Homo sapiens: one gene and its partners. The protein of the gene in region 5 purifies or fractionates together with the protein of the main gene of each other region. This does not show direct contact. Each region holds a gene or a part of one and is shown on either strand. Other genes may lie near its edges.

Region 1 (4,666 bases), about 150 Mb from region 5:
AGTCCAGCCCAAACCCAGGGTGAGCGCAGAGTCTACACGCTGGGGACTCCTGGGACGGGCTGGCAAAAACGCGTGGCCAGGGGAAGGTGTGATCGGTCTGAGGGCTGATGGGGGAGCCAAGGAGAAGGGAATGTGCCCAGCGCACGGATGTGGTCAGGGCGGGAGGCGCGTCCGCACCGATTTTCTGGACCACTAGGGAGATGAGCCCGTCGTCAATGTAGATGCGGCCCCCCACCGGCACGACCCGGACAATATTGGGGTAGTCCACCCACACGGTGTTCGCGTTCCCCCGCGTCCGGAACGCGGGGTCCACAGTCACCAGCACCTGGGAGCCCTTCACCAGCTCCACTTCCGACTCTGGACCCTAAGGAGGGAGCCAGAGGAGATGTGAGTTCTGAGCCCCGGAGTCCGGGACCCGCCCCTGCCCACGCCTGGGCCCAACCCTACAGGCGCCGCCTTTCCGGCCCTGGCCCAGCGAGTCCCAGCCCCACTGCTCACCCCCTGCAGGATCCCAGTGCGGATCTCCGGTCCCTTGGTGTCCAGGGCGATGGCCACGGGCCGGTAGCTGAGTGGGGAACCTGCAAAGCTCTCCACCGCCTCCCGGACGTTGGCGATGGACTCAGCATGGTACTGGGGGAGGGAGCGGAGCGAGGGTTTCAGGGGAAGGTGGCCAGGACCTCGAGGCATCCTCCTGCCCCACCCACTGCCCGGCGGCCCGTCCCGCACCTCGTGGGAGCCGTGGGAGAAGTTGAGTCGCGCAATGTTCATCCCGGCCTTGATCATCTCCTTGAGGCGCTCCACGGAGCGAGATGCTGGCCCTAGAACCAGAGATTCACGTTCAGACAACGTTCCCCCAGAACATGAGAGGCAACCAAACCCAACCCATTACCATTCTCAGAACGCCTCACGCCACAGGCGTCCTGTTACCTGATCTTTATTCCCTGATGCAACCCCTGCCCACAGATCACAGACTCCCCTTCCCTCTCAAGCCAACATCCATCCCCTTGGGGAGGCAGCAGTGTGGAAATCGGAGGGGAGTGCCCTCCGCCAGGCCTGAGGTCACTGTATGGGCATGTATGGGCACTGTATGGGCATGGGTATGTAAGTGCTGCTTGCCCGGCTACCCCAGGGTATGGGGTGTAGGGCAGGGGCTGGGAGCCAGGTGAGGGCGTTTGGGTGCGGGCTTTTAGAGCTAGGAGGCCTCATGGACTGAGGAGAGCTGAGTTCTATCCCATGCCTGCACTGCTATGGGGCAGCTGCTAGCCGAGAGCAGGTTGGCTCATTCTTCGGTCCCTATCTGTCTTTCCACTTGTGCACTAGGTCTCCTCCTTCTCACCTGCTCAAGGACATAAATTAAGCCATTCTGTGGTCCTCTGTGACACCCATGTTTTCCTTTTCTTTTTCTTTCTTTTTTTTTGAGACGGGGGGAGTTTCACTCTTGTCGCCCAGGCTGGAGTGCAGTGGCACCATCTCAGCTCACTGCAACCTCTGCCTCCCCAGTTCAAGTGATTATCCTGCTTCAGCCTCCTGAGTAGCTGGGATTACAGGTGTGCACCACCACGCCTGGCTAATTTTTTTGTATTTTTAGTAGAGAAGGGGTTTCACCATGCTGGCCAGGTTGGTCTTGAACTCTTGACCTCAGGTGATCCATCCACCTCGCCCTCCCAAAATGCTGGGATTACAGGTGTGAGTCACCGTGCCCAGCCATGTTTTCCTTTTTTACTGGATCATCCCCATCCGCAGGTAAACCTACTGTTATTTCTTTCATCATTAAAAAAAAATTCTCTTAATCTCCTGGTTTCCCCTCAGTCCCAGTATTTGCTCTCACTTGCAGCAAAACTCATCGCAAGAGTTATCTGTACTTGCTACCTCTAGTTCCCCTCCCCCATTCTCCCTTGAACCCACCCCACTCAGGCGTTGGCCTCCATCTCTCCACTGCATCTGTTCTTGTCAAGGTCACCAAGAACCTCTGTGTTTTTGCTCCATGTAATGCTCAATGCTCAGTCCTCCTCTATTGGCCCATCAGCAGCCTGAACATACATCCTTCTTTGACACACTGTCTTCACCTGACCTCCAGGGCTGCACCCTCTCTTGGTTGACTCCTACCTCACTAGCTGCTCTTTCCCAGTCTCCTTTCCTTGTTCCTCCCCTTAACGTTAGATACCCTGTTCTCTTCTCCGTCATTTCACCTACACTCCTTTGGTGGTCTCAACTAGTCTCATGGCTTGAGATACCATCTATATGTAGCCAACTCCCAAATGTCTCTCCAATCCAGACCTTTCTCCCAAACCCAGAGTTGTGTACCTGACTGCCCCCTCTATCACATTTGGATGGCTAATAAGCATCTCAGACTCAACATGTCCCAAGCAAACTTCTGCTCTCCCCCCAACCCCTTCCACCACAGTCTTTCCTGCTCAGTGGCTAATGCATCGTTCCAGTTCCTTATGGCAAAAACCTCAGAGTCACCTGTCACCTTTGACTCCTTTCTTTCTCGCCCACACTCCATACCCCATATCCGATCAATTAGCAAATCCTGTCAGCTCTACCTGCAAAATACATTCAGAATCTGACCACTTCTCACCACCTCACTGCCGCCAACTGGTCTGAGCCAGAAATACTGCAGGGGCACCCTTCCCCCCACCCCCCATCTATTTTCAGTGCAGCAGCAGGGGAGGGGAGGCTCTATTAAAACATAAATAAGAGCTTGTCATTCCCCTGCTCAAAACCCTGCAGCAGTTTCTCATTTCACTCGGAGGAAAACGCAACTCAAATTCTAAAAATGGCCTACAAAGCTGCACCTGATCTTCCTGTCCGTACACAGTCTCTTCATGTCTGCCGCTCTTCCCCCTTGATGGTTTCTAGCTCTTCTAACCTTCTTGACTTAGGCCTTGACACTGACTGATCCTTCTTCCTGGAATTCTCTTCCCCCAGGTCTCTGCATGGCTAATTCTCTCATCTCCTTCAAGTCTTCCCTTTGGTCTCATTTACTCAATAATAACTGACCTCCCTATTTAGGGCTGCAACCTGTCTTCACCCTCGTACTCCTGATGCCCTTATCACACTTGATTTCTTTCCCCATAGCACTTAAAACTTTCACTTTTTCTTTCTTTTCTTTTCTTTTTTTTTTAGATGGAATCTCGCTCTGTCACCAGGCTGGAGGACAGAGGTGCGATCTCTGCTCCCTGCCTTCCAGTTCAAGTGATTCTCCTGCCTCAGCCTTCCGAGTAGCTGGGACTACAGGCATGTGCCACCACGCCCAGCTAATTTTTGTATTTTTATTAGAGACGGGGTTTCACCATGTTGGCCAGGATGGTATCGATCTCTTGACCTCGTGATCAGTCTGCCTCGGCCTCCCAAAGTGCTGGGATTACAGGCATGAAACACCACGCCTGGCCTTTTTTTTTTTTGAGACGGAGTTTCGCTCTTGTTGCCCAGGCTGGGGTGCAATGGCACGATCTTGGCTCACCGCAACCTCCGCCTCCCAGGTTCAAGCAATTCTCCTGCCTTAGCCTCCTGAGTAGCTGGGATTACAGGCATGCACCACCATGCCCGGATAATTTTTTGTATTTTTAGTAGAGACGGGGTTTCTCCATGTTGAGGCTGGTCTCGAACTCCTGACCTCAGGTGATCCGCCCGCCTCGGCCTCCCAAAGTGCTGGGATTACAGGCGTGAGCCACCGCGCCCAGCTTTTTTTTCTTTTTTTAAAAACAAACAAACAAACAAACAGAGTTTCGCTCTTGTTGCCCAAACTGGAGTGCAATGGCGTGATCTTGGCTCACTGCAATCTCTGTCTCCCGGGTTCAAGCGATTCCCCTGCCTCAGCCTCCCGAGTAGCTGGGATTATAGGCACATGCCACCATGCCTGGCTAATTTTTTGTATTTTTAGTAGAAACAGAGTTTCACCACATTAGCCAGGCTGGTCTCGGACCCCTGACCTCAGGTGATCCACCTGCCTCAGCCTCCCAAAGTGCTGGGATTATAGGCAAGAGCCACCATGCCCGGCCAACTTTCACTCCTTTCTTTCTTTCTTTCTTTCTTTCTTTCTTTCTTTCTTTCTTTCTTTCTTTCTTTCTTTCTTTCTTTCTTTCTTTCTTTCTCTTTCTTTCTTTCTTTCCTTCCTTCCTTCCTTCCTTCTTTCTTTTCTTTCTTTCTTTCTTGCCTGCTTGCTTTCTTTCCTTCCTTCCTTCCCTCCCTCCCTCCCTCCTTCCTTCCTTCCTTCTTTCTCTCTCTCTTTCTTTCTTTCTTTCCTTCTTTCTTTCTTTCTCTCTTTCTCTCTAGGGTCTCGTCTGTCACCTAGGCTGGAGTACAGTGGCTCGATCATGACTCACTGCAGCCGTGACCTCCTGGGCTTAAGTGATCCTCCCACCTCAGCCTCCTGAGTAGCTGGGACTACAGGCATGCACCACCACACTCAACTAAGTTTTGTATTTTTTGTAGAGATGGGTTTTGCCATTTACCCAGACTGGTCTCAAACTCCTGGGCTCAAGCGATCTGCCAACCTTGGCCTCCTAAAGTGCTGGGATTACAGGCATGAGCCACTGAGCCCAGCCCACTTTTTTTTTTTTTTTTTTTTTTTTTTTTTTGTGAGATGGAGTTTTTCTCCTGTTGCCCAGGCTGGAATGCAATGGTGTGATCTCGGCTCACCACAGTCTCCGCCTCCTGGGTT
Region 2 (7,520 bases), on a different chromosome or scaffold from region 5:
AGATCCAATAATGAAAAGGCTTTTGACTTTGAGTCCCTCATAAGCTGATAGGAGATATGGGCATTTAACTCCAGTTTCAATACATAGCTGCTTCAGTGATGATATAAAATGTCCTAGTAACAAAAACAGGATGCCCTTAACACTGTTGGGGACAGGGTGTGTCAGTAAAGGCTGCAAGAAATAAATGCTGTTTAAGCTGAGTCTTGCGACATGAGTAGGTAGTTAGGAAAACAAGACAGAGTGATGGAGAAACTCTGCAAACCAAGGGAACGATTGGGCAAAAGCATCGAAAGAGTGTGACATGAAAGAGACCTACGTGCATGTACTCACATAAGTAAGCTAGAGCTCTTGGGGAGAAAGCAGGCAACAGAAAAAGTCATCATCTGGGAGCTGAAAACTACAAACAAAGACCAACCCAGTAATTTCAAGTTTTGGCCTGCTTAACAGTATGATGGGAAGTTCTACCCTTGCCGTTTTGACATTAGGGAAACTAACACTCTTCCTCCAAGGGGCAAGTCTTCCTCAGTCCCCTGAACAATTAGAGGTCTAAAGGCACAGTTCCTTTCTGTATCTTTCTGATTTTAATTTCCAACAGAGCTTTTAGATGCAGAAGATTATTACATGTTGTCAGATGAGACAATGTGTTAAAAGACACGTGTGTCTATCTTTAGGATTGGGGCTGTGGCATCAAAGTAAGCAAGTATTTTTTCCCCATTCAAAGGAACAGAAGACTTGCCCTGGGTGCCAGGCAAATCCTTGATGTTAAATTCCTGTCCCTGGCAGCAAGGGACCCGCCCTATCCTCTGCCTGACACATTTTGCTTCTTTACTCCCTTTTTGCTTGACACACCTGCCTCTCCCCAATCAAGTAAACATGATTTCTCCTTCTTTCAACCCCAATAGGGTGCTGCTTGGTTCATGTTTTGCCTTTAGTTTTGTGTCTGTTTTTGTCTTTTCCTCATTGTTAGATTTCAGTCCAGCTTGCTTTACATGTGGGGCACTATATTTTGTAGTGTAGAGCTGACATATAGTAGATACTCAATACTCAGTTTGATAAAACTCCTTGGCTTTTTTACCCTTCTCCCTTTCATATTTTAGAACAAAGCTCATAGACCCCTTAGTTGACACTATATTTGCTATAACACAGCCATTAAATTTTCTAGAATTCTTTTTTATTTGTTTTATTCAAATGGCTTCTCATGATTGGGCTTTCCTCTTGCTTGCTCTATCTGCCCACTTTGGAAATTGCTTTGTCAGCTCCACCGACTTTCTAAGCTGGGCCCAATCCCTAAATGGCCACAAGTATAAGGTCGCCTTTGGAGTTGAATAGTCTGAAGAGACATCAGTGCAAATCAAGGGCATAGGCATTGGAATCAGATTATCTTGTCTGGAATTATGCAGTCAAGGCTGTGTGACGTTGAGCACATTACCAAACCTCTCTGGGCTTTTTTTTAACCCAACTGTAAGGTAAAAATAATACCTACCTTATTGTTTGTTCGCTGCCTTGCAAGCCTTTCAAGGAGGTGAGACAGGGATGAAGCCCTTTCTCAGACTCAACATTTTAGTCATCTGCCCTCTAATCCTTTCCTTTTGCTTATTTGTCAAACTTGTACCTCCTTTAGGTGAGGACAAATACTTATATGTTGGCCATTTTATCCTCTCTACTCTATGACTTAGTGTAAAAAATCTCTCTCTCTTAGTCCTTACAATCATGAGACAATGAACTCCATTCTCATGACCATGTTTTAATGGGAGGAGGGTGGTAGAAGGAGGACACTTGCTTCCCTTTTGTGAGGTTTTTAAATTATATATTTATTATAACCTGTTCAAGAGTGGGTGAGAACAGTGTGGATTTTAAAAGGAACATTTCTGTGTCAGCAAAATGTCCCTGTGTTTGGGAGAGACTTTTGGAGGATTTCCAGGGGAAGCAAAGTAGTATTTACTGACAGTCCAAATGCAGTTTGGGCCTCTAACCTCTGGCCTCTCTCAATTTGTTTTGCAGTAAAAAGTCAGAGTACACAGCAAGGGTTCCAAATTAAGAGGAAGCAAAACGCTGCCCAGATCCTGAGAAACCTGGAGAAAATCAACCTTAGTAGTTTCAACTCATACATTGTCTTGTTTGATTTTGTTCTTTGTTTTTTATCCTCTTTAAGCACAGATGCGTGTTGAAGTCTAAGGTGTTCTGTCATCACACTCTCTTTACTAGAATAAGTGTGCCCAGGCAGAAAAAAAAGTGTATTCAATGTTGCTGGCATGTGTGGATTCACAGCTCGTGGCTGTAAGGAAATCTGGGGGTTTCATAAATCCATTAAAATCCTTTTAGAGTTGCCAACCCGCAGTAGGATTTTCTTTCTTTTTTTGTTCTTTTTTTCCCCTTCCAAGTGAGGCACATAAAGGATTCTACCTAGTCCATGAATGAACAGTTTCATAGAAACATTAAAACCCTAACATAACATGAATTATTCACAAAGTTGCATGAAACAATAATATTTAGGTTATCCAAATTATAAGAAGCCTGAAGGTTACCACCAAACTATTAAATTTTTCTAGGCATTAATTACATAACTAAACAAATGTATTTCTTAAAATTCTCTCTTCCTCTACATACACACAGTAACATCAAAAACAACAAGAGCAACTAAACCTCAATGAGTAGCTACAATGCAGAAAGAGTCCATTTCAATTCAAAGAAAAATATTTTCTCCTAAAAAATATGAGAAAACATTCTGTAGGTTCAAATGAATTTAGCCTTGGCTGAGATCACGAGCCACAAAAGTAAGTGGATATGTGACTATAATTATACAATGTTGGAAAATGGTGAGAGGACTTTAAAATATGCATTTCCTGGCCAGATTGTATCAGAAAACTGAACTAACTAGACAATAACACCTTACAAATTTTGAAGTCCAAAATTTTCAACTAAATTCCAGGAATTCAAAGAAAGACTTTTTTCCTTACCTGTCCCTTTGAGAAAGGAGCTCCAATAATCCCTATGGTTCTGGACTTGGCGCTCATGCTCTGACACTTCTCTTTGCTGCACTTGAGCTCTCCAGTCAGTCAACCCTCAGTGACAGAGGGCGCATCTTTTTTTTCCATTTATACTTGGGTTGAATAAACAACCTTTATCTAATGAGGACAGCTGGCTCCACCCACTAAACCAAAGAATGACAGTCAACAGTCTTGCAATTTTTCATACATGGAGTAACTATATGGTTACTCCATGTATGAAGTAACTATATGGGGTTACTTCATACATGGAGTAACCTAACTCTGAGTCTAGGTCTCTAATCAAGTGACAATTATTCATGTTCTCACTTCACACCCTTTTAAAAAGCCAGCCAGATGACATTAACCTGACTTCAACAACTGACAAGTTTCACAACTACAGAAGAAGTCCTATTGTTCTGGCTCAGCGAACTCAGGGCAAGGCCCTTTCCTCCTCCAGATCTCTGAAGACGTCCTTGTAGAAGAAGGGCCGGGCTTGGCAAGATCGTCTGTCACATCCCTTCCAGCCCTAAAATCCTGAGTTGAGATTTCACACATGAGGGTAAATGGTTAATCCATGAGACACATTTCATAAACTTTTAGGGTATAATATAATAAAGAGTATATAACTTCCTTTTTTGATGATTACTTTAAAAAATTAGTTACTTGATTGGTAACCCAGAGAGGTTACCATTTTTGAAGTATGGTGTACAGGAAAATAATTGTAGAATCATATCATAATCAAAGTATAGAAATAAAAATAGCTAACATTGAGTTTTTACCATGTGTCCGATGCAGTTCTGTTTCAAAATACCATATTTATATTTATACCAATTTTATGTGAAGTCTCATCATTGGTGCCATTATACTGATGAATAAACTGAAGCTCAGACCCGTTGCCAACATAGGCTGTAGAAGAAAAGTCGGGATTTAGTCTCTGCCATTCTGAATCCACTTAACCGTCGAGCTTATAGTCTAAATGCTGGGAAGGTGTCAACCTCTATGCCCCTGAGCTACCATTTGTCACCATACAAAAGTATGAATTTAAAATAAAGGCACCTTAAAGATCCTTCCGACTTTAAAATTATGTAATTGTAATTTAAAGGGAAAATTCACTTAGTAGAAACTAATTTCTTTTTCCTATTGGTGGGAAAGAACATTTTGGAATTTAAATTCCATGAGGTCAGAGAATTTTGTCTGCTGTATCCCCAGGGCCTAGAAGAGTGTTGGTGTATAATAGGCACTCAATAAATATTTATTGAATGGATAAATGAGGAAACCAAAGTCTCATGGGTCCATTTTGATAGGACTGTTTTCCAAATAGGTTTCCTACCTTTTTCTTGTGGGTTTGCTTGTATATCCTAAATATTTACTTGTGGTATTCCTCATATTGCCTAGATATTAACCTTATAGCATTGACATTGCAAATAACTTTTCCCAACCTGTCAGAAATCTGATAACTTTTTATATGTTATCACTCAAAATCCTCAATTTTAAAATAGACACTTGTATAATTTCCCCCGAATGCTTTGTGCTTTGGAAGTCTTATTAAATTCCTGCCACCCCATCAAATTGTAGGTATGTAGTTTTACATTTTCTTCCATTTGCCTTAGAGCTTATCTTTCTCACTTAGTTCCTGAATCCATCTTTGTATGTTATGTAAATTTTCCAACTCGTTTTTCCTCTATCATTCATGCATCAGTTTCCTCAACAACACCCATTGAATAGTCATTCATTTTGCAATTGATTGGAGTGCTGTCTGTCACTAAACTCTTTCTTCTGTTCCATTGACTTATTTACCTATGGCTGCACCAGATCCATCAGGTTTTATCAATACAGTTTTGCGGTACATCTTATCATTGTTTAGGCAAGAGTAACTGTTTTGCTCTTCTTTTTCAAAATTGATTTACCTTTTATGGGTCTCTATTCTCCTATAGTTGGAATAACCTAATTCCTTAAAAGTATTTGCTAGAATTTTTACTAGATTTATAAATCAATCCATGGAGATTTGCTAACTTTCAAATTTGATTGCTAGAATTTTTTCTTTGAAAAATTCACATCCTGAAAGTTCTTTGTATGCCAAGCTGAGATTGCCTTCCTGTCATATGAACCATTGGTCACCACCCTTTAATCCAAGTAAAGCACATTATCTCTTGGCTGTCATGTCTTTCTTGGATTTCTATTGTTTAGGCTGAATATTCCCAAATACCTCACTAATTTCTTGTGTTACATAGTTGCCACTTTCCTTCAGGTCACCAACTTGGTCGCTGTCTTCAAAACATCTCGCTTCCCTCTGCCTTTCCTAAATAGGGCATCCAGAACAAAATGCACATATCCAAATACAGGTGGAGTTATCTGGTCCATCAGACACAAATTTGATAACATTTGACTTTTCCAAGTCACTGATAAAAATGTTGAATAAGGCAGCACTTTTACAAACACTCTGTGACATTCCACTGGAAACCTTAACCCAGATTGGCATAGCCCCATTAATTAATCATCAGTTGAGATACAACTGATTACTAATTTCCAACTCAACCACTCCATCCTGTTCACAAGGACATCGTAAGGAAATTTATCCGGTGTCTCAATAAAATCTCATCACACTTTACTACCTTTTCTTCTGCCAATCTGACTTCCCTGTCAAAGTTGATGGGCTGACCTTGACAGGTCCAGTTCTTGGTGAACTCATGCTGACTTCTAGTGATTGCTGCTTCCTTTTTATTATTAACACAAGCTATTTTTTCAGTCTCCAAAGCTGTCATCTCAAGACTGCTAGAGGAAGAAGATAAGGGGTGTCTCACCTATATCACTCTATCAAAGATACACTTTCTTCAGCTCAATTCTTTCATTTATCTCAGGGTTATGTACATTGAGGTTTTAAAAGCCCTTCTAACACTGCAAGTCTCTTAACCAAATGTTGAAAGAAAAATCCTATCTGGCATTTTCCTGGGAATGAGACCACATCTTATTTGACCCTAATCCAAAGCTACTGGAATGAGATCTGACACATAACAGGCCCTTGTATTAGTTTCCTATGGCTGCTGTTACAAAGTACTTGTACCACAAACTGGGTGCTTATAAAAAATAAAAAATAAAAAATAAAAATAAAATAAAATACAATTTTTTTATCCATAGTTTAGAGGATAGAAGTCTGAAATCCAGGTGTCGGCAGAGCCATGCTCCCTCTGAGACCTGCAGGGAATCCTTCCTACCTCTTCCTAGCTGCTGGAGGTTTTCTGGCAATCTTTGGCATTTCTCGGCTCATTAGGTGCATCACTCCAATCCTCCATCTTCACTTGGCACGCTCCCTGTGTCTCTGTGTTTTCACATGGCTGTCTTCTTACAGGGACGACAGTCATATTGGGTTAAGCCCCCCACCCACCAGTATGGTGTCATATTAACTAGTTACATCTGCTATGGTCCTGTTTCCAAATACAGCCACATTCTGAGGTACTGAAGGTTAGGACATCAACATATCTTTTGGAGGGATGTAATTCAACCCCTAGCAGCCCAAATTAATATTATTGAAATGATAAAGAAAGCATGAATTAAAAAGTTACATAATGAGGCCAGGCGTGGTGGCTCATGCCTGTAATCCCAGCACTTTGGGAGGCCAAGGCAGGTGGATCACGTGGTCAAGAGTTCGAGACCATCCTGGCCAACACGGTGAAACTCTGTCTCTACCAAAAATACAAAAAATTAGGCGAGTGTGGTGGCAAGTGCCTGTAATCCCAGCTACTCAGGAGGCTGAGGCAGGAGAAGCACTTGAACCCGGGAGACGGAGGTTGCAGTGAGCCAAGATTGCACCACTGCACTCCACTCCAGCCTGGGTGACAGAGCAAGACTCCATCTCAAAAAAAAAAAAAAAAAAAAAAAGTTAAAAAAAAAAAGTTAAAAACAAAAAACTTACATAATGAGAGGGATGAAAAAAATGACACACTTTTGCCCTCTACTTGTTTTTCTTTCTGTTGCTCCAAACTACAGCCCATTTCTGCATTGTCTTTTCAACAGCCAGCTAACAGATAAGAATTCTTTCCAGATGAGGCCCAGGATTCTTAGCACTTTTACCAAAGACTGGAATATACACAAAATTTGAAAGACTAAATCTTGAATCGGGAGACTTCAGGGAATCATTTTGCTTGGTGCATTTCCTAGACCCCTTAAATCCAATACGGTAAGGTTGGACCTGGTCCTGGAACACTACACACTATGATTTTATGGAAATGTTCAAACAGGATGATCTCTGGGTAAGTTACATAGTCATTTCTTTGAGTAGGAACTCTCTTAACCCCTTAAGGCATATTAGTAGCCTAAGTAGCATGGGTCACCATAAAAAGAAGGTTCATAAGAAGTGTCTGGCTCGGGTTGCTTCACAACTATATGTTAACAGACGCCTACTCTTTCCTTCCTTTCTTTTTTTTTTACCCTCCCAGAATTGAAGCGGCACTCTTACGAATGTGGAGGCTATGGGAAACAAACTCTTAAAGAGCAGTGCAACTGTTCTCTCTCTGAGCATAGGGAGCTCAAGGCAGC
Region 3 (6,439 bases), on a different chromosome or scaffold from region 5:
TAGTTCTGTTTTTTTTTTTTTTGAGATGGAGTCTTGCTCTGTCGCCCAGGCTGGAGTGCAGTGGCGTGATCTCGGCTCACTGCAAGCTCTGCCTTCAGGGTTCATGCCATTCTCCTGCCTCAGCCTCCCAAGTAGCTGGGACTACAGGTGCCCGCCACCATGCCCGGCTAATTTTTTGTATTTTTAGTAGAGACGGGGTTTCACTGTGTTAGCCAGGATGGTCTCGATCTCCTGACCTCGTGATCTGCCCACCTCGGCCTCCCAAAGTGCTGGGATTACAGGTGTGAGCCACCGCGCCCAGCCTCTTCCTTTTTTTTTTTCTTTTTGAGACAGCGTCTCACTCTGTCTCCCAGGCTGGAATGCAGTGGCACGATCTCAGCTCACTGCAACCTCCGCCTCCCAGGTTCAAGCGATTTTCCTGCCTTAGCCTCTCAAGTAGCTGGTATTACAGGCGCCCACCAACATACCTGGCTAATTTTTGTATTTTTAGTAGAGACGGGGTTTCACCATGTTGGCCAGGCTGGTCTTGAACTCCCACCCTCAAGTGATCCACCCGCCTTAGCCTCCCTAAGTGCTGGGATTACAGGTGTGAGCCACCATGCCCAGCCTGTTTTTAATTTCTTTAGGAATCTCCATAGTGTTTTCCACAATGGCTGCACCATTCTATTTTCCACCAACAAAGGTTCCCTTTTCTCCACACCCTCACCAACGCTTATCTCCTATCTTTTTGATAATAGCCATCCCAACAGGTGTGAGGTGATACGTCATTGACATCAAAATTAGTATTGATAGCAAAATTGGAATTTTTGGAAAGATATTAGGATAGGGGTTGTCAAACCTTCTCTGTAAGGGGCCAAATAGTAAATAGTTTCAGCTTTGTGGGCCATATGCTGTCTGTTCTAACTACTCAACTCTACCATTGTAGGTTGAAGGCAGCCGTAGCCAGTATGTAAGTGAATAAACATGCCTGTGTGCCAGCAAAGCTTTGTTGATAAAAACAAACTGCAGACTGGATCTGGTGAGTGAGACACAGTTTTCTGACCCTCATGTTTGGAGACTCCCAGAATCATTGGGTGTTTGGACCGCAGGTTGGCATGTAAGTAAGTGTATAGAGCTCAGTGCATGCATCACCCCAGATCTCTTGGCCCTTCGAACCCACCCCTGTGTTGGCCACTTGGTTTTCCATCTCCATGGATAAAACCCCGGTTACTGCCATGGCTAGATTCCTGGGTGTACCACATAAAATGACCATAGACGATTGACTTCCTAAGGTGGAGGTTCAAATGGATCAGGAATGATGTACTTATGCCAGTAGACAGGTGTCAGCTTCCCAAGTGCTCAGAGGAGAAAGGCTTTGAGGTAACACTTGAGTTCATTAGGAAAAATAGGTGTGATTGATTAGTCATGTCTGCCATGGGCACCAGGCTAGAGAGATGGCACACTTGCTAAATGTCTTTGATGCTGTAACTAGCCCACCTCCAATGTCCCTTATAGTTCTGAAAAGTGACATTTTTCTGTCTGCATACTTCCTTGGAAACATTCTGGAGATGGAACAATTATGTAAAAGATAGCCATTCAGCATGAAAGTGTGGCCTGTAACTTTACAAATTCCCAACACGTCTGTTTTTGTGAAAGAGACAGGAGCTCGGTGTGGTGGGTCACATCTGTAATCTCAGCACTTTGGGAGGCCAAGGCAAGAGGATTGCTTGAGACCAGGACTGTGAGACCAGCCTCGGCAACATAGCAAGACCCAATCTCTACCGAAAAATAAGAAAATTAGCCAGGTGTGGTGATGCACACCTGTAGTCCCAGCTACATGAGAGGCTGAGGTGGGAGGATTGCTTGAGCCCAGGAGGTCGAGGGTGCAGTGAGCTATGATGGTGCCACTGTACTCCAGCCTGGGTGGCAGAGCAAGATCTCATCTCTTAAAGAAAAAAAAAAGGAAAGAAGACACAGGCTGAAGCTCCTGATTCTCCATTCATGATAGACACACCTGGGAGGAAGCCAGCCACTGGGAAAAAAGAAATTAAATCCATAACTCCTTTTGTATCAGCCTCACTGTTTCAGCACAGAACAAAGATTTCAACACTTTCTTTCAAAGTTTGACAACTGTTTATTGAACACTCATTATGCAGATTAAGGGCTTGTTCCCTGCCCTCCAGAAGTGGTCATTTCCAGCATCTAATCCTGGGTGAGAGGGAAGGATCAATCAGAAAAAAGAGAGGAAATGGCTTTCTGGAAAAAGTAGGGGTGGGAGGTAGTGGAAGAGGGGTAAAGGGAGAGGGAGGGCCCTCCAGCTTGGGGGAAATGGTGATAGCAAAGGCTTAGAGGCAAGGGTGAGTAAGAAGACATTAGCCTTTTTGAAAGAGTGAATTCATGGTGGAAGAGATGGGAGATGGGTTTAGCTAAGTGCTGGTAGATGGCAAAATTGGAAGGGTGTGAGAGATCCTGATGTGCGGTTTGACTTTGGTCTTTATTTGATTGATTGATTTATTTTGGAGACCGGATCTCACTGTCTCACCTAGAGCTGGGATGCACTGGCATGATCATAGCTCCTTGCAGCCTCAAACTCCTGGGCTCAAGTCATCCTCCCACCTCAGCCTCCTGAGTAGCTGGGACTACAGGCATGTGCCACCATACCCAGTTAATTAATTTTTTTTTTTAGAGACAGGGTCTTGCTGTGTTGCCCAGGCTGGTCTCTTAACTCCTGGCCTCAAGTGATCCTCCCGCTTCAGACTCTCAAAGTCGGGAATACAGGTGTGAGCCACTGTCCAGTACCCTGGTCTTTAAATAATATGGTATGTTGTGTCTTCTTGAGTGTTCCAGGGAGATCACTGTTATAGATGGTATGGAGGACACATGAAAAGTGGGATGGAAAAGCAGAGAGGCAAGGGAGGAAGTTGGTTGCAAAGATGCAGATATGAGAAGCTGAGGACTTGAGCCTGGACAGTAACATGTCAGGGAAGAGAAGACCGGCATGAAAGTTGTTTCAAAATCAGGCTGGACTGGGCATGGTGTCTGGTGGCATATGAAGGATGCAAGAAGAGAGGGGTCATAGATTGACTGCAGAAATCTGAACCTGGGATCTGAGGTTGAGGATACCAGGGAACGCTTGGAGGAGTAACCGGGAAGAAAAGCCCTGAGTTTTTAGTGACGCTGGATGTGCCCGTAGGTTACTTGAGCAGGAAAGGTCAAAGCTGGGGATGGAGAGATACAGGCTGTAGAGTTGGAAGATAGTGAAGCCGATCTGACTTCCAGCCTGGTGCTGCAAGGTTACCTGGAGGTAACCTTGGCTGGTGGTTATTGAAAATTTCTAGAAACTTCCAGAAAGCTCCTACCTTGGAGATAGGGAAAATTTTTATTAGTCATCTTCACTAATTAGAAAAGTTTTCAGATGGATCAGGATTTAGCAGGTTGTGGAAAAGAGGCTGGGCTGGAAGTCAAACCTTGTCCTTGCCTCTGTCTTACTGTATTGCATTTGACAAATTATTTAACCTCTCTGGTTATGAGAGGTTAAATATTATGTTGTCTGCAAAATAGCAAGGTGACAACAGGGAATTTGCCATAGCTCCAACACGCTCTCATTTAGAGTAATTGAATGCAAGAATAGTTGAATAGATGGATTTTCTTGGAGAGAGGGCAGAGTCCAGGGTTTCAGGGGAGGGGTGTTAGGAGGAAGAGATCCAGAAAGGAGGAGACAACTTTATTATCTAGAGAGGCCATGAGCTAGGAAGAGAACGGAGTTAGGACACCAACTTGCCAGCCAAGGAGGAGTGGTTTTGGAGAGAAAGAATGGTTCTTACCTTACTAACTCTCCAGGGTAAAGGAAAGAACTGGAAGTTGGGAATGCATTGGCCTCAGGAGGAGGTTTGACCTCCAAGTGAGATGCAGGAGCCAGCAGAGGTTGGATTGGGGTAGGAGGGGATGAGTGGGCTTTGGTTTGTCTATGGAAAATCTTGAGCTTTATCCAGTTTCTGCTTCATGGGAGAAAGAAGACCACAGGAACAGAAAGTGGGATAAGTGAATGCACTCTTAGGTCTCTTCGGTTGCATTAATAAAGATAGAAAGTCCAGCCTGAGGGAGGTGATGTTAATGTTGCCACCATGCCTTGTGCTAAGTTTTGGCTGGCTTGCTCTAATAAGGACAGGAGGACCTGCATGAAGGGTGTGATGGAAAAGAAACTGGGTGCCATTTGGCCTTGGGAACAGAAGATCTTGGGGAGAGGTAAGAGCTGCCTCTAAATTTCTGTGAGACAGAAAGAATGCTGGAAGGAAAGCTCCTCCTGGTCTTTCTACTTCTACTGCAGATACAGCCGTTTCCGGAGGGTGCTTTGGATTTCAGGGTTCGTTTTCCTTGCTTTTCCTTCTTGAACCAGCTCTGCTTCTGCCATCCGCCGGGTCACCTGCAGCAACAGGTGTGGTGAGCTTGGAGGAGTCAGTGTCATGGACTTATGGGGGGAGGGTTAGGGAACGGGGCAGGTGGGTATTCTTGTCCTAAGATGAGAGACCGTTGTGGCCTCTTCCTATACCATAGTTTGTATGGAATCCTTGGCTGGGCATTTTTTAAATAATTTGCAATAAAAACATATAAACATTAAAAGAAAACAGTTTGCCCAAACATTGTTTATATCCAAGGGGGATTTGTTTATAGAAATTTATCTCCCATACTGTGGCTTTTAAGAGTCCCTGCATTTGGGAAAGTTGTTGGAAAGTGGGCTTCTTAGTTTCTGTATTGAGATCTGGCTTGGATTTGGAGCTGAGGGAAATGGAGAGGGGTTAGGAGGAGGCTCAGCCCCCTCCGCCTGCACCCTTCTTGGCCTGGGCGGTGGTCCCAGCTACCTTTTGTCAACTCACCTCTGTCAGAAGTTCCAAGATATGTCCTTTCCTCTTCGTGAACACATCCACCAGGGTCTGGATAAAGCATGAGCCTTTCTGATCATGTCGGTAGGCGATGTATCCTGGGAATTCCAGAGAGGTGGGTTCGGGGGAGCTTCAGAGGGTAGGTAGAGGGGATCCTGGAAGGGCGTGGGTCCTGGAGGAGAGGTTCAGGAGTTGGGAGTGGCAGGAGAGGGGGAAGAGCAGAGGGATCCCTGGGCCAGCTGGGAGCTCATACCCTCTACCGTGGAATAAACGTGCAAGGCATCTGTGTATGTTGGGATGGTTTGTGGGCTGTCTTTGATGACCATCACAATCTCATCTCCACCTACTGTTTCACCGGGGTCCCTTTGTTCTGAAACAACAAGAAGAGGAGGAGGCAAAGTCAGAGAGAAAGGTAAGGAAAGGGGCTGGGCAGGGTGGCTCACACCTGTATTCCCAGTGTTTTGGGGGGCTGAAGCAGGAGGATCACTTGAACCTGGGAGCTTGAGGCTGCAGTGAGCCATGATTGCACCACTACACTCTAGCCTGGGAGACAGAGCGAGATGTCGCCTCTTAAAAAGAAAGGTAAGGGCTGGGCACGGTGGCTCACACCTGTAATCCCAGCACTTTGGGAGGCTGAGGAAGGCAGATCACCTGAGGTCAGGAGTTTGAGACCAGCCTGACCAACATGGTCAAATCCCATCTCTACTAAAAATACAAAAATTAGCCAGGCATGGTGGCTTGCACCTGTAATCCCAGCTACTTGGGAGGCTGAGGCAGAAGAATTGCTTGAACCTGGGAGGTGGGGGTTGCAGTGAGCCAAGATTGTGCCATCGCACTCCAGCCTGGGTGACAGAGCAAGACTCCGTCTAAAAAAAAAAAAAAAAAAAGGATGCTTTTGTGGTATGCCATGTGCAGTGGGGCTTTTTAATTTAATTTAACTTTTTAGAGACAGGGGCTTGCTTTGTTGCCCAGGCTGGAGTGCAATGGTGTAATCATAGCTCACTGCAGCCTCTTAACTCCTGGGCTCAAGTGATCCTCCTACTTCAGCCTCCTGAGTAGCTAGGACCACAGGCCCATGCCACCATGCCCTTGGCTAATCTTTAATATTTTTCATAGAGCTGGGTTCTTGTTACATTGCTCGACGCTAGTCTTGAACTCCTGGCCTCAAAAAATCTTCCCGCCTGGGCCTCCCAAAGTACTGGAATTACAGGCATGAGCCATGGTGCCTGGCTTCAGCTGGGGCTTTGGATCTGGGACTGGCTTGGATAAAAACACAGACTTGGTTGGGCATGGTGGGAGGCTGAGGCAGGAGGATTGCTTGAGCTCAGGAGTTTGAGACCAGCCTGGGCAACATAATCAGACCCTGTCTACAAAAATTAGCCTGACATAGTGGCGGGAGCCTGTAGTCTCAGCTACTCAGGAGGCTGAGGCAGGAGGACGGCTGGAGCCTGGGAGATGGAGATTGCAGTGAGTTGAGATTCCGCCACTGCATTCCAGCCTGGGTGCTGTCTCAAAAAACAAAACAGAAACAACAAACCACAGACTCTGTGCTCTTGGATCTGTCCCCACCTCCTCGACAG
Region 4 (5,735 bases), on a different chromosome or scaffold from region 5:
CTCTAGAAGACTTTTTCTTGAGAAATACCTTGAGTTGGGCTTAAGGATGAGTCAGTTTCACCCACTTTTTCACATTTTAGGGCTCACCTTCTCTCTGGGCAAACAAGTTGGGAACAAGTTCTTCCTGACCAATGGTGAAATAATGACCTTTGAAAAAGTGAAGGCCTTGTGTGTCAAGTTCCAGGCCTCTGTGGCCACCCCCAGGAATGCTGCAGAGAATGGAGCCATTCAGAATCTCATCAAGGAGGAAGCCTTCCTGGGCATCACTGATGAGAAGACAGAAGGGCAGTTTGTGGATCTGACAGGAAATAGACTGACCTACACAAACTGGAACGAGGGTGAACCCAACAATGCTGGTTCTGATGAAGATTGTGTATTGCTACTGAAAAATGGCCAGTGGAATGACGTCCCCTGCTCCACCTCCCATCTGGCCGTCTGTGAGTTCCCTATCTGAAGGGTCATATCACTCAGGCCCTCCTTGTCTTTTTACTGCAACCCACAGGCCCACAGTATGCTTGAAAAGATAAATTATATCAATTTCCTCATATCCAGTATTGTTCCTTTTGTGGGCAATCACTAAAAATGATCACTAACAGCACCAACAAAGCAATAATAGTAGTAGTAGTAGTTAGCAGCAGCAGTAGTAGTCATGCTAATTATATAATATTTTTAATATATACTATGAGGCCCTATCTTTTGCATCCTACATTAATTATCTAGTTTAATTAATCTGTAATGCTTTCGATAGTGTTAACTTGCTGCAGTATGAAAATAAGACGGATTTATTTTTCCATTTACAACAAACACCTGTGCTCTGTTGAGCCTTCCTTTCTGTTTGGGTAGAGGGCTCCCCTAATGACATCACCACAGTTTAATACCACAGCTTTTTACCAAGTTTCAGGTATTAAGAAAATCTATTTTGTAACTTTCTCTATGAACTCTGTTTTCTTTCTAATGAGATATTAAACCATGTAAAGAACATAAATAACAAATCTCAAGCAAACAGCTTCACAAATTCTCACACACATACATACCTATATACTCACTTTCTAGATTAAGATATGGGACATTTTTGACTCCCTAGAAGCCCCGTTATAACTCCTCCTAGTACTAACTCCTAGGAAAATACTATTCTGACCTCCATGACTGCACAGTAATTTCGTCTGTTTATAAACATTGTATAGTTGGAATCATATTGTGTGTAATGTTGTATGTCTTGTTTACTCAGAATTAAGTCTGTGAGATTCATTCATGTCATGTGTACAAAAGTTTCATCCTTTTCATTGCCATGTAGGGTTCCCTTATATTAATATTCCTCAGTTCATCCATTCTATTGTTAATAGGCACTTAAGTGGCTTCCAATTTTTGGCCATGAGGAAGAGAACCCACGAACATTCCTGGACTTGTCTTTTGGTGGACATGGTGCACTAATTTCACTACCTATCCAGGAGTGGAACTGGTAGAGGATGAGGAAAGCATGTATTCAGCTTTAGTAGATATTACCAGTTTTCCTAAGTGATTGTATGAATTTATGCTCCTACCGGCAATGTGTGGCAGTCCTAGATGCTCTATGTGCTTGTAAAAAGTCAATGTTTTCAGTTCTCTTGATTTTCATTATTCCTGTGGATGTAAAGTGATATTTCCCCATGGTTTTAATCTGTATTTCCCCAACATGTAATAAGGTTGAACACTTTTTTATATGCTTATTGGGCACTTGGGTATCTTCTTTTGTGAAGTACCCGTTCACATTTTTGTATTTTGTTTAAATTAGTTAGCCAATATTTTTCTTACTGATTTTTAAGTTATTTTTACATTCTGAATATGTCCTTTTTAATGTGTATTACAAATATTTTGCTAGTTTTTGACTTGCTCCTAATGTTGAATTTTGATGAACAAAATTTCCTAATTTTGAGAAAGTCTTATTTATTCATATTTTCTTTCAAAATTAGTGCTTTTTGTGTCATGTTTAAGAAATTTTTGCCCATCCCAAAATCATAAGATATTTTTCATGATTTTGAAACCATGAAGAGATTTTTCATGATTTTGAAATCATGAAGATATTTTTCCATTTTTTTCTAATAGTTTTATTAATAAACATTCTATCTATTCCTGGTAGAATAGATATCCACTTGAGACAGCACTATGTAGGAAAGACCATTTTTCCTCCACTGAACTAGGGTGGTGCATTTTTGTAAGTTAGGTAACTGTATGTGTGTGTGTCTGTTTCTGGGCTGTCTATTCTAGTCTATTTGTTGATGCTTGTGTCAAACAGTACACTATCTTAATTATTGTACATTTATAGTTGTAACTATAGTCCAGCTTTGTTCTTCTTAAAGTCAAGATTTCCATATAAATATTAGAAACAGCTTCTCAATTTCTACAAAATCCTGATGAGGTTTCTACTGGGACCACATTGAGTCTATCAATCAACTTATGCAGAACTGGCAACTTACTACTGAATCTCTAATCAATGTTCATCATGTATCGCTTCATGTAACTAGAATTTCTTTAACTTAATTGCTATGTTTTGACATTTTTAGTTTAAAAACCTTGTATATCTTGTTTTGGTGGTTTTAGTGATTTTAATAATATATTTTAAATATTTTTTCTTTTCTATTGTTGTACACAGAAATACAGTTAAGTTTTGTGTGTAGTCTTACGATGTTTAGTAAACTCAATAAGTTTATTTCTTAAATCTAGTAATTTGTAGATTCCTCTGGATTTTGTATATGCATAGTCATGTAAGCTGAAAATATGGCAATACTTGCTTCTTCCCAATTGCTTTACCTTTTTTCTTACCTTATTGCACTGGTTAGCAACCCCAATACAGAGACCACCAGATCAGGTATAGACTCCTGAAAGACAATATAATGAAGTGCTCCAGTCAGGCCTATCTAAACTGGATTCACAGCTCTGTCACTTAATTGCTACATGATCTAGAGCCAGTTACTTTGTGTTTCAGCCATGTATTTGCAGCTGAGAGAAAATAATCATTCTTATTTCATGAAAATTGTGGGGATGATGAAATAAGTTAACACCTTTAAAGTGTGTAGTAAAGTATCAGGATACTATATTTTAGGTCTTAATACACACAGTTATGCCGCTAGATACATGCTTTTTAATGAGATAATGTGATATTATACATAACACATATCGATTTTTAAAAATTAAATCAACCTTGCTTTGATGGAATAAACTCCATTTAGTCACATTTTATCTTGTGTATGTATTATTGGAGTGGACTTGTTAATAGTTTGTTTAGAACGTTTGCACCTATGTTCATGAGAGATACTAGCTTTTTTTCCCCTCCTTAATGCACTTGCTATGGTTTGGGGTCAATGTTATGTAAGCCTCATTAAAATGAGCTGTGATGTGCTCTCATGCTCCTTATTATCTAAAATAATTTGTGTAAAATTATACTTTAATGTTAGATAAATTCACCAGTGAAGCCATCTTGGAATGGTGTTTTCTGTTGGGAAATGATTTTAATTTCAGATTTAATTTCCTCATGATCTAAACCTATTCATGTTTTCTGTCTTTTGTTCGGTTTCAGTGAGTTATATTTTTCAATGAATGTGTCAATTTCCTCTGAATATATATGTATTGGCATAAAATTGTTACAATATCTTTGTATTTCTTTTCAATATAAGTAGGATCTATAGCAATGTCTATGTATCTGTTATGATTATTTGCATTTTATCTTTATTTTATTGTATTTTTTTTTGAGATGGAGTCTCACTCTGTCACCCAGGCTGGAGTGGCTGGAGTACAGTGGCACGATCTTGGCTCACTGCAATCTCTGCCTCCCAGGTTCAAGAGATTCTCCTGCCTCAGCCTCCCAGGTAGCTGGGATTACAGATGCCCACCACCATTCCTGGCTAATTTTTTTAATTTTTTGTGGAGACGAGGTTTCGCCATGCTGGCTAGGCTGGTCTCAAACCCCTGACCTGAGGTGATCTACCTGCCTCAGCCTCCCAAAGTGCTGGGATTACAGGCATGAGCCACTGTGCTTGGCCCATCTCTTTTTTTCTTAATCAATCTTGCAAAGGATTTGTCCATTTTATTAAATTTTTCCAAAAACTTCTTTTTGGTGTTTACTAACCTCTATGATTACATTTATTTATATCTGTTCCTGTCTTTATCATTTCTTGTATCGATCTTCTGTGGGTTTAATTGGCCATTCTTTTTCTAGCTTCTTTTAATTGACATTTAGAGAACTGATTTTCTTCCTTCCTTCTTTGCTAATATAATCATTTAAAGTTATAATTTTTATTTAAGAACTATTTCAGCTGCATACCACAGGTTTGGATATGTATCTTTTCCCACCAATTCAAAATAGGTTTTTCATATCCAATTCAAAATATTTTATAATTTTCATTGTGACTTCTTCGACTCATGGTTTATTTATAAGTGTGTGGTTTAATTCCTAAATATTTGAGTATTTTAAAAAGCTATACTCCTGTAAGTGATTTATAGTTTAATTCCACTGTATCCAGAAATATACTTTTATATGAGTTCAATCTTTTGAAATTTGTTAAGATTTTATTTTATGATCCAGTTTATGATTTAGAATGGTAAATGTATTATGTGCACTAGAAATAATGTGGTTTTTACAGTTGATTAGTGTATCATTAGGTCAGGATATGAATCTTCTTTGTATTTTCTGTATTCTCACTAATATTTTGCCCTTTTAGAAGGAAATAACAAAGATCAGAATAGAAATAAATGACATAGAGAGTAGAAAAGCAAATAGATCAATGAAACTCAAAAGTTAATTTTTGTGAAATGATACAATTTCCAAACTTTAGCTAAAATAACTAAGAAAAATACAGAGAAGACTCAAAATCAGAAATGAGAGGAGACACGACAACTGATAACATACAAGTACAAAGGATCATAAGAGCTACATTCCTTTGTGTTACATTGTTTTCTCTTTACATTCTGATTGTCTCTCGCTTGCTCGCTGTCTTCTTTTAAAGTTTTGTTTCAGAAGAACTAAAAAAATCTAGGTTTAAAATGTACAGATATCCTTTGTAACTTAGCATTAGGCAAAATTGTCTTAGAGAACTCAATTACTTTTCAAGTAAAAAATGATAAATTGAATTTCATCAAAATTAAAGATTAACTCAGTTTGTTAAACATTAGGAAAACAGGCAAACCATGACTAGGAGAAAAATATTTGCAAATATTGGCCTGCATCTGTCAAAGGATACATAGGATACAGAAACAACTGCTATAAGCCAGCAATAAAAAGACAGAACTGGGAAGGGATGGCCAGGGACCAAAGGAGAAGAAATGAAACACAGGATAGACCACCTTCAGTGTCCTTGGTCAGGAATTCCCATTCCTTAATGTTGTGGGCTAAATAGTGTCGCAAAAAAAAAAAAAAAAAAAAAAAATCTATGCAAGTCCTAACCACCAGGACTTATGAATGCACCCTTATGTGGAATTAGGGTCTTTACAGTTATGATAAAGACAAGGCGAGGCCACACTGGATTAGAGCAGGCCCTAATCCACTGACTGGTGTCCTTCTAAGAAGAGGGAAATTTGGACACGCAGTCACACAAGGAGAATGCTGTGTGATGAAGAAGGCAGAGAGTGGAGTGACACATCTTTAAGACAAAGACTGCCAAAGATTGTGGACAATACTGGTATCAGAAACTTCTGCCAACTTCTTCTGAAACGTCTGCCTACAAACTTGTTTTCTACTAAAATCGTCCATTCTATGAGAAAAC
Region 5 (6,782 bases):
TGGGCCACGTGGATCCCATCTTCTCTCAGCCGCCCCAAGGCTGCTGGGCTCTGTCTCAGGAAGAGGATGACTTCTTCATTTCTTCCCAGTTTTCGCAGGTTGGGCACAGTAACAACGTAAGGCCACATTCCTGGGTGCATCGCGTGCTGAGCTCAGAGCCACTGGGTTCCTGGGTCAATGACACATGATAATGGCATTTTTTGAGTAAAACATACCAGCTGGCTCTGCTGATACATCATCCCATTAGTATACATTACTATACGTCATCCCATTAGTAGTTTCTTTTGAGTACTATTTCTGTCACTCAGGCTGGAGTGCAGCGGTGTGACCTCGGCTCACTGCAACCTCCGTCTTCCAGGTTCAAGCGATTCTCCTGGCTCAGCCTCCTGAGTAGCTGGGATTACAGGTGTGTGCCACCATGGCTGGCTAATTTTTGTATTTTTAATAGAGACAGGGTTTCACCGTGTTGCCCAGGCTGGTGTTGAACTCCTGACCTCAGGCAATCCACCTGCCTCAGCCTCCCAAAGTGCTGGGATTACAGGTGTGAGCCACCGCACCTGGCCTAATTTTTGTATTTTTAGTAGAGACGGAGTTTCGCCATGTTGACCAGGCTGGTCTCGAATTCCTGACTTCAGGTGATCTACCCACCTTGGCCTCCCAGAGTGCTGGGATCACGGGCATGAGCCACCGAGCCCAGCCCCCATTAGTTTTAAAGTGATGGCACACATGTCCTGGGGCAGAGCAAGGGGAAAGATGATGGCCGGTGTTGGCCGGTGTTGGCAGTTGAAGCCATGTCTGGTTTCTGGCATTTCTAGCTGGTTTTACTTTCTTCTCTGTGCTCTTCTGTTTCGTTTGGGAATCTGTAAAGCCCAGACACTTCTTTACGTAAAGCAGAAGCCTTATTTATTTGTGTGGAGGAGTGTTTAGTCGATTTGCTGCTGCCCCTGGTCTGAGGGTGAGCTCTGTGTGGGGACTGTGGCTTTGGACACAATCACGGCAGTTCCTGTTCCTTCTGCTCCAGGACAGCTGCTCAAGTCACTTATGGTTTTTCCAGGAGCACGAGAAAGGGCTGGGGGTACCGAGCCGGCCCCGCATCACTAGCTGTGTTCTGTTTAGCCTGCATGTGTGATATCAAAAAACACATTATATATAAGTACATTTAAGAATATACATTTCAAAGTACATCGTTTTTTCTTTGGAGATAGGGTCTCACTCTGTTGCCCAAATGGGATGTGGTGGCACAATCATAGCTCACTGCAGCCTTAAACTCCTGGGCTCAAGTGATCCTCCCGCCTCAGCCTCCTGAGTAGGCGGGCTGCAGGCATGCACTACCACACCCGGCTAACTTTTTTTTTTTAAATAAAGGTGGGGTCTTGCTATGTTGCCTAGGCTGGTGTCAAGCTCCTGGGCTCAAGCGATCTTCCACCGTGCCCTCCCAAAGTGCTGGGATTACAGTCTTCAAGTACATCTTAGTAATGTACTGTGAAATTAAAATTTATTTAAGATTTCAGTTATTATTAAGATGAGCTTCGTGCATGTTATATTGTCGAAACAAAGGTACTTTATGGTAAACTTATAAAGTATAGTCTCTAAGATCCTGTTACAAGAGACTAAAAGCACCCACGGTAGAAGAGACGGGGGTTTTGAAGCCGTGTGGCTGTGTGACATTTCACCTTCATTTGTTCACTGCCTGAATGTGAATGTAATTTTGGCTGGGTTCTATAAACCCCAGGCTTGGAATGATTCAGATTTTGGAGAATTTGCTGTCCTCAAATCCCAAGTAATTTTCTTCTCTCCCTTAGGCACTATGTCGTCCGAGGCCCAGAGATGACCCCTTATGAAGGTAAGGATTCTGTGCTTAGGAGAAGAACACCAGGCGGTTTTTATATTCTCAGTCAGCCTTGCCTGTTCAACATCTTTTATTTGCAAACAGCAGCCTTTCTACTTTGGATGTGTGCTAGTTAAATTGGCTTAGTTGGAACTCCTCCTCGTCTGCTTCTCCACACGCTGGAAGTGTTTGCTCTGCTGATGTGTCTCAGCCTGCAGGGCCGCCTGTAGCGTCTGTGTTCACCAGCCTCTGACACCATAGGGCCATAGCTGAGAAAACCAGACCGGGGTAAACACTGAAGCTGGCCTGTTCTACTATTTCTTAAGACCCAGTGCATATCATCAAAGGAAAGGCACATATATTCAGTTATTCAGTGTGCCTTCTGTGCTGGGCGCCCCCAGGGTTTCGCAATCCCCAGGACGGTCTCTGAGCTAAGTGGAAGTACCCCTGTGTGGTGGCACCTGGGGCTTCGGTAGGCTGCAGGACCTGTCCAGCACCTCAGCCCTTCATCGACTACCAAGGCTGATCCAGCAGCCTGACCCCTCCAGGTCAGCAGACACCACCTAGAGACCTAGTGTCATTTATAGAGAAGATGCTGGAGCTGTCAGTAAGTTTCTGGGGCCTTTGGCGGAGGCTGGCGCCAGCCTCGATCTGGACCAGGTCAGTAGTCAGTGTGCCCGTGAATACTGTCCCGCCGGCAAGCACAAGGCAGAGCAGGGCCAGGTCAGCAGTTGCTGTCCAGCCACAGGGCCCCGGCTTCAGGTGGCTGGAGCAGCAGGCTCTGTTTGCCTGTGTGTGGAGGCTTTGGATGAGATTTCACTAGAAGAGAGTGCTGCTGCTAGAAGAAGGTTTGCAACCCCTGCTTTGGACTGTCGGGAGGGTTGTGGGTGGGTAAGAATGAAAAAGGCTCTCCTGAAGGCATTTTGGCCGAGTTAACACAGCCACACCTGTGGACTCTCCTTTGGCCCAGGAATCCCAGTTCTGGATCATCTGCAACTAGGGCAGCCAGAGTGCGGGAGTACATCTGTAGGGTGGGCCCTCCATCATCGTGTCATTGCCCATGACCAGCGTTGGGGATGCCAGCAGGCCGTGGTGAGATAAGGCCCGGGAGCAGGTGTCCAGGGCGTGTTAAAGTACTTGTTACGATGCGTGTGTGTGCCTTCAGCTGATCTGAAGAATATATACCACCGAGTGAGTAGTGGTCGGCCGGGCGCGGTGGCTCACGCCTGTAATTCCAGCACTTTGGGAGGCTGAGGTGGGCGGATCATCTGAGGTCAGGAGTTCGAGACCAGCCTGACCAACACGGAGAAACCCCATCTCTACTAAAAATACAAAATTAGCCGGGTGTGGTAGTGCATGCCTATAATCCCAGCTACTCGGGAGGCTGAGGCAGGAGAATCACTTGAACCCGGGAGGCGGAGGTTGCAGTGAGCCGAGGTCGTGCCGTTGTATTCCAGCCTGGGTGACAAGAGTGAAACTCGTCAGGAGATCCAGACCATCCTTGCTAATACGGTGAAACCTTGTCTCTACTAAAAAAATACAAAAAATTAGCTGGGCGTGGTGGTGGGGCCCTGTAGTCCCAGCTACTCAGGAGGCTGAGGCAGGAGAATCGCTTGAACCCAGGAGGCGGAGCTTGCAGTGAGCCGAGATCGCTGCACTCCACCCTGGGTGACAAGATCAAAACTCCATCTCAAAAAAAAAAAAAAAAACCAAAATGGGTGGTGGTCTTTGACAAGCAAAATTATGCCAGCTTTACATTTTTTTTGTTTGTTTTGTGGTTTTAGTTTTTTAAAAATAAATAGTGAATATTAATTCTGTATCCACACCCAGTCTCCCTCAACTTCACCAGCTAGGTCAGTTGCTGGTGGAGATGAGCTGCTCCCCCAACAGGGCTGGACACAGTTGGGAGAAGAGGGGGCAGCCCCTGGGTGTGGTGCGGCCGTTGCCAGCCCCAACCCTGTCACTTGTGCTTTTATCTTGGTCCCCTCCCATCGCTTCCGTTGTTCCCCACAACCGTGTGTGGCTCTGTGCTGGTCCTGGGTCTCAGGAAAGCCTCCCTTCAGAGAGAGAATGTGTGTTCCTACTGCCCCTCCCATTTCCCTCTATGGCACTGCTGCTCCCGTCCCCGCGGACCTCCCCCTCACTGGGGGATGCCTTTTGCTCTCTGCAGCCCTGCCCTCTGCTCTCCTTCAGGGTCTCCAGGGAACCCCTCCGAATTGCCACTTGCCGAGGGGCTGTTCTCAGTCCTCAGTTTCTTAGCCTCTGGTATCTGATGCTGCTGACGACAGCTTCCTTCCTGACTTCGGGATTTCTGACCCCTTTTCCTGCCTGTGCATTAGCTGCGTCCCCTCCGTGCACTGGGTTCCGTGGCTGTTCTGCCCCTGGTGCTGCCCAGGCGTGCCCACTCTGACAGTTCAGAGCTGGCTTCCTACAAATGTTGCTAAATCATTCCCCTTGAGTGAATCTGTAGATTTCACACAGTCCTAACAAAATCTCAGTTTTTTATACTACACAAGCTACATGCAAAGGCAAAGGACCTAGAACAGTTAAAACCATTTTTCTAAAGAATGAAGTGGAGTCTGTGGTTTCAAGACTTACCCCAGTGATGAGGGTCAGGCAGTGGTAGAGGAGGGACAGGCCATGGGGCAGAGTAGCCAGCTAGGCCTTTGCCTCAGGCTTTTCAGCAGATGGCCTGGGGTGTGGGGATGTTCAAGCTGCCAGGGACCCACTTCAGGACAAGTGGGTGCTTCCTGATTTTCATCTGGTGCTGTGAACGTCTGTGTGTGTGTGGCTCTTGGTGCCTTTGTCTTGGGTTTCTCTGGCGGGTGACAAGCAGTGGGATAGCCGTCTGGGGCTTCCCGATAGGTGTGCGCGCAGTGAGGCAGCAGGGCGCCCGTCTCCCATCCCGACAGGTGTGCGCACGCAGTGAGGCAGCAGGGTGTCCATCTCCCAGCACCCTCTGCGCTCAACTGGCTGTTTCCTGCCGTGTAAGTCACTCTTGCCCATTAGCACCGAGCTAAACATCGTTCCAGCCTCGCTTTGGCTGTTCCCGCTTCCTCTTTTAAGCAAGCCTGTTTCTTTCACTCACTTTCCAGTTTGGCCTTTCCTTATGATCTCTTGTGTCTTCTGGGTGTCATTCCTGGGCTTCGCCTCTCCCTGGTGGATGTGGCCGCACGCCAGGATGGGTGACAGTGGCACTTGCTCATGCCGTCCCTCCACTGTTGACTCCACCCCTGTTCCTGCGTGTCCTCGAATGCCAGCCCTGAGCAGAGTGCAGAGAGGAAGCTGCAGCGTCCCCCTGCTTGGCCATGTGTGTCTTCAGGGGAGGCAGACAGTGAAGCCGTGTTTTCATTTAGGATCTATGGGAGGGAGAGCAGCCCCTAGTGATCAAGAGAGAGACACGAGGGAAACACGTGCGGGAGGCCACACATGCAGGGAGGCCAGGGAAAGTGGAGAGAGACTGGAACCCCCAGGCCGACCCTTTATTGGGTCCAGGGCGTTCTGCACACAGGTTTCCCTTGGGGAGTTTTAACTGGTGGGTTTAATACAAGCGGGCACGAGCCCCGTGGGGCCACGCTGTGACTGTGGGGGACTCCGTGGTGTGGCTGCACAGTCCATGTGGGGCGTGGGGTCCGTGGGGACATGGGGGGTGGTCACCAGGGGACAGTGCGTAGGGCGGGCGTCTGGGTGGATCAGCTCGAGGAAGGGGGATGTGAACTGAAAATTGTTGCGGGTGGCAGCCCCGCTTCTGGTCAGAGAAAGTCCAGCCTAGATTCAGAGTGGATGCCGAGGCGGCCTAAGATGATGAGCGTTCCTGCAAGATGTAAAGCACTCGAGGGGCAGGGGTGCTGCATCCTACACAGGGTGGGTCTAGAGCAGAAGAGCCCGTGGCGATTTGGGGACTCGCATTGGGGCAGGGCTGTGCACAGGGAGCCCAAGGGAGGACAGAGGCCAGTGCTCCTCAAACCTGATGGCATGCACACGCATACACACGCATGCACGTGTCCTGATGGCACGCACACACATGCCCACGCCCATGCGTCCTGATGGCACGCACGTGCACACGCGTCCTGATGGCATGCACATACACATGCACACACACGTGTCCTGATGGCATGCAGACACGCACATACATGCGTCCTGATGGCATACACACACACATGCACACAAGTGCGTCCTGATGGCATGCACACACTCAGACACGCACACACGCGTCCTGATGGCATGCACACACGTGCGTCCTGATGGCATGCACACACATGCACACACGTGCGTCCTGATGGCATGCACACACACATGCACACACGTGCGTCCTGATGGCATGCACACACTCAGACACGCACACACGCGTCCTGATGGCATGCACACACACGTCAACGCATGCAGGTGTGGCCAGGGAGTCCTGGCTTGTGCACTTGTGGTCCTCTGGTTGGGGTTGGCCCCAAGCTCTGAATTTCCAACCAACTCCAGGTGCAGCCTGGGCAGCCAGCGTGTGGGCCTCGGGCTGGGGCGGGGCTGCCATGAGGCAGCTCATAGAGGGCCTGGGAGCAGGGCCAGGGGAAGCCACACAGGGTGTGCGGCTCTAGATTGATTTGAAGGTGGGGCCAACAGGATTTGCTCATGGAGTGGGTGTGATACCAGGAGGATGGAGTTGCCAAGTTGCCATTTGGTGGAAGTGGCCGGATTTCTGTCCTGGATGGGGGCGTCTGGGCGCTGTGCTGTGGACGGTCAGTGTAGTGGCCTGGAGTGTGCACAGGGCCCGTGGGTGCAGGGTGGGGGAAGTGGCTGAGCAGCCATTGCAGGGCTCCTGATGGGAGGCCGTGAAACTAGGGCGACCCCAGGAGGATGCCAGGACTGAGAGGAGAGCACCCTGTGCTTGGGTGGGCGAAGAGGGGCTGGCTGGAGTGGGAAGAGGGGGTGGGGAGTGGAGGAGCTAGACCAGGGTGGGGCTTTG

The links.
Region 1: the proteins of UBE2J2 (region 5) and PKLR purify together in Homo sapiens (affinity purification with mass spectrometry; one large-scale study listed by BioGRID and IntAct). This does not show direct contact.
Region 2: the proteins of UBE2J2 (region 5) and ARG1 purify together in Homo sapiens (affinity purification with mass spectrometry; one large-scale study listed by BioGRID and IntAct). This does not show direct contact.
Region 3: the proteins of UBE2J2 (region 5) and CASP14 purify together in Homo sapiens (affinity purification with mass spectrometry; one large-scale study listed by BioGRID and IntAct). This does not show direct contact.
Region 4: the proteins of UBE2J2 (region 5) and MBL2 purify together in Homo sapiens (affinity purification with mass spectrometry; one large-scale study listed by BioGRID and IntAct). This does not show direct contact.

The regions. Positions count from the first base shown.
Region 1 is NC_000001.11:155,294,939-155,299,604, forward strand, and holds part of PKLR (pyruvate kinase PKLR), read right to left. Parts: intron 819-4,666; coding exon 727-818; intron 631-726; coding exon 499-630; intron 365-498; coding exon 178-364; intron 1-177. UniProt on the Homo sapiens protein: Pyruvate kinase that catalyzes the conversion of phosphoenolpyruvate to pyruvate with the synthesis of ATP, and which plays a key role in glycolysis.
Region 2 is NC_000006.12:131,568,777-131,576,296, reverse strand, and holds the start of ARG1 (arginase-1), read right to left. Parts: upstream 3,072-7,520; 5' UTR 3,015-3,071; coding exon 2,958-3,014; intron 2,332-2,957; exon of another isoform or gene 2,005-2,331; coding exon of another isoform or gene 2,002-2,004; intron 1-2,001. UniProt on the Homo sapiens protein: Key element of the urea cycle converting L-arginine to urea and L-ornithine, which is further metabolized into metabolites proline and polyamides that drive collagen synthesis and bioenergetic pathways critical for cell proliferation, respectively; the urea cycle takes place primarily in the liver and, to a lesser extent, in the kidneys.
Region 3 is NC_000019.10:15,053,948-15,060,386, reverse strand, and holds the end of CASP14 (caspase-14 precursor), read right to left. Parts: coding exon 6,429-6,439; intron 5,230-6,428; coding exon 5,113-5,229; intron 5,032-5,112; coding exon of another isoform or gene 4,958-5,031; coding exon 4,854-4,957; intron 4,403-4,853; coding exon 4,298-4,402; 3' UTR 2,094-4,297; downstream 1-2,093. UniProt on the Homo sapiens protein: Non-apoptotic caspase involved in epidermal differentiation. Is the predominant caspase in epidermal stratum corneum. Seems to play a role in keratinocyte differentiation and is required for cornification.
Region 4 is NC_000010.11:52,762,856-52,768,590, reverse strand, and holds the end of MBL2 (mannose-binding protein C precursor), read left to right. Parts: intron 1-80; coding exon 81-454; 3' UTR 455-3,211; downstream 3,212-5,735. UniProt on the Homo sapiens protein: Calcium-dependent lectin involved in innate immune defense. Binds mannose, fucose and N-acetylglucosamine on different microorganisms and activates the lectin complement pathway.
Region 5 is NC_000001.11:1,258,407-1,265,188, reverse strand, and holds part of UBE2J2 (ubiquitin-conjugating enzyme E2 J2), read left to right. Parts: exon of another isoform or gene 1-358; coding exon of another isoform or gene 359-406; intron 407-1,802; coding exon 1,803-1,843; intron 1,844-2,798; exon of another isoform or gene 2,799-2,904; coding exon of another isoform or gene 2,905-2,920; intron 2,921-6,782. UniProt on the Homo sapiens protein: Catalyzes the covalent attachment of ubiquitin to other proteins. Seems to function in the selective degradation of misfolded membrane proteins from the endoplasmic reticulum (ERAD).